Linked DNA regions of Homo sapiens: region 1 is linked to region 2. The links come from fine-mapping of genetic effects on plasma protein levels. A gene starts in region 2. The other region holds a variant in brackets. All regions are shown on one strand. Distances are between the middles of the regions.

The links. A credible set is the group of variants that fine-mapping cannot tell apart. PIP is the posterior inclusion probability: the model's chance that the variant is causal. Protein levels are from antibody-based Olink assays in UK Biobank. Linkage for the fine-mapping came from a reference panel and not from the study's own genotypes, which makes the PIPs less certain.
Region 1: its variant is the best candidate, but not a certain one, in a credible set for the plasma level of the SLA2 protein (UK Biobank, PIP 0.60). The variant lies in the coding sequence of SLA2. If it changes the protein, the assay may bind it differently, which can mimic a change of level.

The regions. Positions count from the first base shown.
Region 1 is chr20:36,612,849-36,615,751 of GRCh38, forward strand. It overlaps SLA2 (Src like adaptor 2), which reads right to left. Exons shown (of 8, transcript NM_032214.4): 6 at 2,377-2,526; 7 at 1,457-1,589; 8 at 1-1,138. The coding sequence ends at 1,018. Among named protein-coding and RNA genes, the nearest start is that of RAB5IF, 8.5 kb to the left of the region's middle. The variant G/A (reference allele first, on the strand shown) is at 1,545.
Region 2 is chr20:36,644,590-36,647,492 of GRCh38, forward strand. It overlaps SLA2 (Src like adaptor 2), which reads right to left and starts at 1,607. Exons shown (of 8, transcript NM_032214.4): 1 at 1,248-1,607.

The sequences.
Region 1 (2,903 bases), 32 kb before region 2:
GTGTTATTTTTTATTCGGCCACAAGATGGCAAGGCCAGTGTGCTAGGGAATGGTAAGCCACAAAATGAAATAGAGATCTGAGAGCTAGGCTGGGTGCCGTGGCTCACACCTGTAATCCCAGCACTTTGGGAGGCCAAGGTGGGTGGATCACCTGAGGTCAGGAGTTCGACACCAGCCTGGCCAATGTGGTGAAACCCCATGTCTACTAAAAATACAAAAAAATTAGCCAGGCATGGTGGTGTACGCCTGTAATCCCAGCTATTCTGGAGGCTGAGGCAGGAGAATTGTTTGAATCCAGGAGATGGAGGTTGCAGTGAGCTGAGATCGTGCCATTGCACTCCAGCATGGGCAACAGGGCAAGACTCCGTCTCAAAAAAAAGAAAAAGAGCTGGGGCTGTTGTCCTCAATGGGGGACATTTGAGGACCTAGACTGTCCGAAGTCTTTCTCTTTGCTCTGGAGGTCACATAGAGCCTGGACCATCCAAGATCTGCTGCTACGGTAAGACATCATCTCAGCTTTCCTTTCCCTTCTAGGCCACAGTCCTACCTTCTGAGGTATGGTGGTGGTCTCAACGAGACTTGTAGATTTTCTGAAAATGACTTTCTCGTTGACTCTAGGGGTTGTTTCTACCTTGTGGGTGGGGCCTGGTTAATGGTGGGGATGTAGAATGGGGCTCAACAGGCAGGGCATCCAGATGGTACTGGAAACCCCAAACTCAAGAACTAACTAGGTCAGACCCCCCAGGAGGCTTATTCTCTTTTTGGAACCCTGGCCCTGGTCCCACCTTCTCTGCACTCGCACTAGAGGTCGCAGGTGGGATCATGGCACTGGAAGGAAGTAGGTGACTTCTAAGGGCTAAGAGAGGAAAGAGCAAGGGTACAGGTGGGACCCTAGATGCACCTCTGTGTCCCACCCTCCCTCCCTGAGTGCACAGCCTTGCCTCTGGGGTGCCCAGGAGGCTGAATTGGGGTTCTAGGTGTGCAGCCTTGGTTTCCCTTTTGGCCTCTCCTTTGGGCCTAGGCATCATCCAAAGAGACAGCCTCGTCATTCAGGCTGATGTAGAAGCTGAGGGACTCCCGGAGACCCTCACTGAGAAGAGACTCCTCCCCTGTGGCAGCTTCAGAAAACAGGAGGGAGCTGTGGACAAAGGAAGATAATTGGGTCAAGAAGCCTCTTCCTCCTCCCTGTACTCACTACACACAAAATTGCACTGTTCTCAAAACCCTTCACTCCTGCTGAGGACCTCATGGGGCTCCCCTGTTCCCTATCAGATCAGCTTCCCCAGCCCCACCTGTCGAGCCTGGGCCGTGCTCCAGGAGTTGAGTCAGTGCACTCTGGCTCCAGCTGCCAGGTGTCCCTGAGTGTGACAGGTACATTCCGGGTTGTGGCTTCCCAGGGGTGGGTCCTTCTAACTCTTGGTCCTGCTTTCATGTTTCCAGGAGTCCCCAACTTTACCTGTCCAGCTCTTTCCAGTTGAGTGGTGTCCTCTGCACAGTCACAGGTAGGGGTATATCCTTGCCAGGGAGCGGGCCAGCCCTCTGCA[G/A]GACACAGGGCTCCTTGAGTAGGCAGCAGATGTCATCCGCCAGCTCTGAGGAAGAGACCTCCATCCCTGACATGACTGACTCCACCCTACTTCTCCCCAACAGCCCTCACCCTGACAGCCCTCTGCAGTTGGCAGGAGGGGGCATGGTTACCAAAGAGTGATAGGACATGAGCCCCAAGCTATTGGTTTCATGGAGACAGATGTAGTCAAAGGTCTTTCTGGGCTAACTTTTGGGAGACAGTCACTGTATGATTTAGGGTGAGTTCATGGACCTCTTGAGCTCAAGTTTCTGGTTAGGAAATTGCTTTGGGAAGAAGAAAGCTAAGGAATGCTCAGTCTACTTCTACTCACTGTCTACTTCCACACAGAGTGACCTGCAGAAAACCCCTAATGAGTTTTCACAAGAGTGCTCTTCCCTCTCTGCCCCCTGACGCTGTGCCCAGTGACTGCATCTTCCAGTGTCTGTTGAAGGACAGGCACCAGGAAGTACTAAGGAGAGTCAGGATTGAATCCCACACAGCAGCAGCTCTGTGCCCGGTTCCTGTGGAGAGAACTCTGCCTGCTGCCAGGGGCTCTGAGTCAGAACCAGAGTGGTAGGCAAGGTACTGACCTGAGCCTACACAGGAGGTCTGTGGCTTTTCTGCCAGGGCACGAGGTGAAGACAGGGCTCCCAGCCTGCATTTCTTGGCATAGGGACTGGCGTGAAAATAGGGGAGGCCGCTCTTCTGTCTGTCTGAATACTCCACAGTAGGTAAAATATCCAAGGGCACCACTGCCTGCTCCTCCCCACAGACTATCCCAGCCTAGTCCTGGAGGCAGGGAAAGGCCATACCAGAGTAATGGTCCACCAGGGCCTGGAGTGAGGGGAAGGTGAGGCGCGGTGAGATGTACAGCCAGCCATTGTCAAGGCAGTGGATCCTGTAGTGTCTGATCCGGTCCCAGGATGCAGGGCGGCTGAGGCGGACTGACAGAGAGTAAGAGCCTGAGGAGAAAGGGGTCCAGGGGTGGCACTGAGGCCCTGCTGGGACTCGGCCCCACCTAGGCTGGGAAACGAAGATAGGCAACGTGACCATGGGGCCCCGGCAGAAGGGAAGTGTCTGGGGCAGAAGCAGGACAAAGACTTGCTCTCTTGGTCATCAATAATATGTTCATAATAGATGGGGGTCTTGTGAGGGTGAAATCAAATCACACACAGAGCCCTCAGTACAGGGTCTGGCACTGTGTGAGTGAACATTCAGCGTTGGCTGTTCTTACAAAGACTCAGGTGGCAGATATGTTAGGATGCAAAAACACTGTCAAGAAGATGCTGGCAAGGAAGTGGAGAAGTAGGACCTCCCACCCTGCTGGTGGAAGAGAAAT
Region 2 (2,903 bases):
TCCCCAAAGTCTCTGCAGCTCCCTTCACCTGGTCAAGGACTTGGTCAGGTCAAGGCCAATAAGCCCCTGGGGGCAAAATAAAGACCATACAATGGGCCAGCCTAGGAGGAGGCAGAGTATTAGCCGCACATTTTGTAAGACAGCATCAAATCATTAACTCTACAAATTTTTGAAAAACTTACTATGTGCCAGGCACTTTCCGGAGGACATGAGGCATCGGGTGAAAGGAAAAAGTTAGTCAACGGCAGCCGAGATGAGCACGCTGCCCAGAATATTGTGTTTTTTTTTTTTTTTTTTTTTTCAGTATCTCACTTGGGTCCCATTTCAGATACAGTGACCAAGTCCCTGAGAGGACAACCATGTGATTCTGTTCATGTAGCCCATTCGTGCAGGACTGGGCCTGCCATCATGTGTATTTTGTGCTTCTGAAGATCATTTTTCAGCAGTGGGGGTAAGAGTGATGAATTTGGCCAGGCACAGTGGCTCATGCCTGTAATCCCAGCAATTTAGGAGGCTGAGACAGGAGGATTGCTTGAGGCCAGGAGTTCGAGACCAGCCTGGGCAACATAGTGAGAACCCCCACCCCCACCCCCACCACCGCCTGCCATCTCTACAAAAATATAACGAATTAGCTGGGCATGGTGGTACATGCCTGTAGTCTCAGCTACTTGGGAGGCTAAGGCAGGAGGATCACTTGAGCCCAGTGGTTCAAGTCTATAGTTAGTCATAATTACGCCGCTGCACTCCAGCCTGGGTAACAGAATGAGACCCCAACTCAAAAAAAAAAATGAATTTGGATTGAGTTAAAGGGAGACCTCTCCCTCTCTTCCAATTGAGAAATATCACCCCTTTGAGAGTGAGAGTGCACTGTAGGCTCTACAGCTGAAATGTCTTGAGAGATGGTAGCCCTCACGTTCCTGACTTTGGAGTCTGACTGCAGCGCAGAGAGGGGCCCAAAGTCACACAGCAAGTGCGCACCTGAGATGGGACTAGGACGGGCGTGAAGACAAGCTGCACGGAAGAGCGTAAGCTCCAAGAGGAGGTCAAAGGTGGAGCAGGTGAGTCTTGGTTCTTCTGGGACCCCCAGAAACCACCCCTCTTTACAGCCTCAGTAGAACCACTCCCCCTTCTCCTTGAGCTTGTTTTTTTCCCAACAGCAAATAAAGCCCAGTCCCAGTCGGGGCAGGGGAGACCATTCTTCCTCACCTGTCTCCAGGCCATCCAAGAACAAAAGCAAGCATACTTACTGGTTTGTCATCAAAGGCTTGGGAAGACAGCTCTGCTGAGACGCATGCTCTGGCTGGACAGGTTAGGGCTTTGGGGGCCCTTCTGGAAGTCTGCCAGTGTCCTTGGTCCTAGGACACCCAGAACTCTCTCAGCCTGGGAGGATCTTCAGGGAGAGGCTAGGTGTTGGTTTGGGTAGCTCAGCATCTGTCTGCAGTCAGCAGTTTGTACACCAGGGATGGATCAGCTGCCCCATGCTCCTTAGGGATTCTGGACTGGGGAACCCTCCCAAGCACAGCCGAGCCAGGGAGGGAAGGCCCAGGGCCCTTTGAGCTCTGTCACAGAGACACAGGCGTGGGGTCCTTGGAGCTCTAGCTCCGACTGCAGACTCTGTGGTTCTCACAACCACCCGTTTCCTCTGACGGCATCACAGACCGTCGAGGAGCCACCTTCCCCAAGTTCCTGTTTCTAGGGGAGCAGCTGCTGCCTTGTCATGATCGTGGAGCAAAAGGTTTTTCTCTGGCTTTGTGGCTTAGTCTTGTCCAAGGAACACAGGACTGAGGAAAATGAGCCGGAGTTCCCATGCTGGCCTGACCATAATAATCACTCAGCGGGACTTAATTGTAGCAATTTCTGGGATCTCCCAAACTTTCTAAATCCAAGTCTCCAGATAGGGAGCCCAGGAATCTAAATTTTAAACCCTGCAGGAGATTCCCTTGACTGACGAGTGTGGGAAGCACTGCCTTCTCAGCCTTTAATGTGTATAGGAATCACCTGGGGATCTTGTTGCACTGCAGGCTCTGATTCAGAAGGTCTGGGGCAGAGTTCAGTATTTTGCATTTCTAATACGCTCCCAGGTGACCCCCATGTTGCCAGTCTGGGGACCACACTTTGAATAGCAGCAGTATCTGGACAGTGGTCTCCAAGTATGGTCCCTAGACCAGCAGCCTCAGCGGGAATTTGTTAGACATGCAAATTCTCAGGCCGCATCCCAGATCTATGGAATCATACTCTGGAGGTAGGCCCAGCAATCTGTTTTCATGCCTCCAGGTGATTCCGATGCATGCCCAGGCTTGATTTTTTTTTTTTTTTTTTTTTTTTTTTTTTTACAGGGTCTTGCTTTGTCACCCAGGATAGAGTGCAGTGGCACAATCATAGCTTAGTGCAGCCTTGACCCAGGCTCAAGTAATCCTCCCTTCTCAGCCTTGAGTAGCTAGGACTACAGGTGTGCACCAGCACTCCTGGCTAATTTTAAATTTTTTTTGTACAGATGAGGTTTCACTGTGCTGCTCCATCTAATCTCAAACTCCTGGCCTCAATTGTTCCTCCCACTTCCACCTCCCTAAGTGTTGGGATTACAAGCATGAGCCACAGTCCATGCCCAAGCTTGAGAATCACTGGTCTAGGATAAAGAATCTGACTCTGGCTGAATTGTCTTTGATCAGTGTGTTACCTTCAGTCCCACTCTTCATTAAGATTTAACCACACCCTCTCGCTGCTTCCCCATTAGGGGGATTAGTACTCTTGGAGACAAAGGGCCCACTGCACTGAAATGATTCCTGACTCCAGCTCAGCCCATGCAGCCCTTTCTGGGGCCTTGCCAGCTACAGCACTCCTGCTCAGGTTCTCCTTTGATCCTAGGGAAGGCTGGTTTGATTTTTATCCTTGTAGGCACTTGG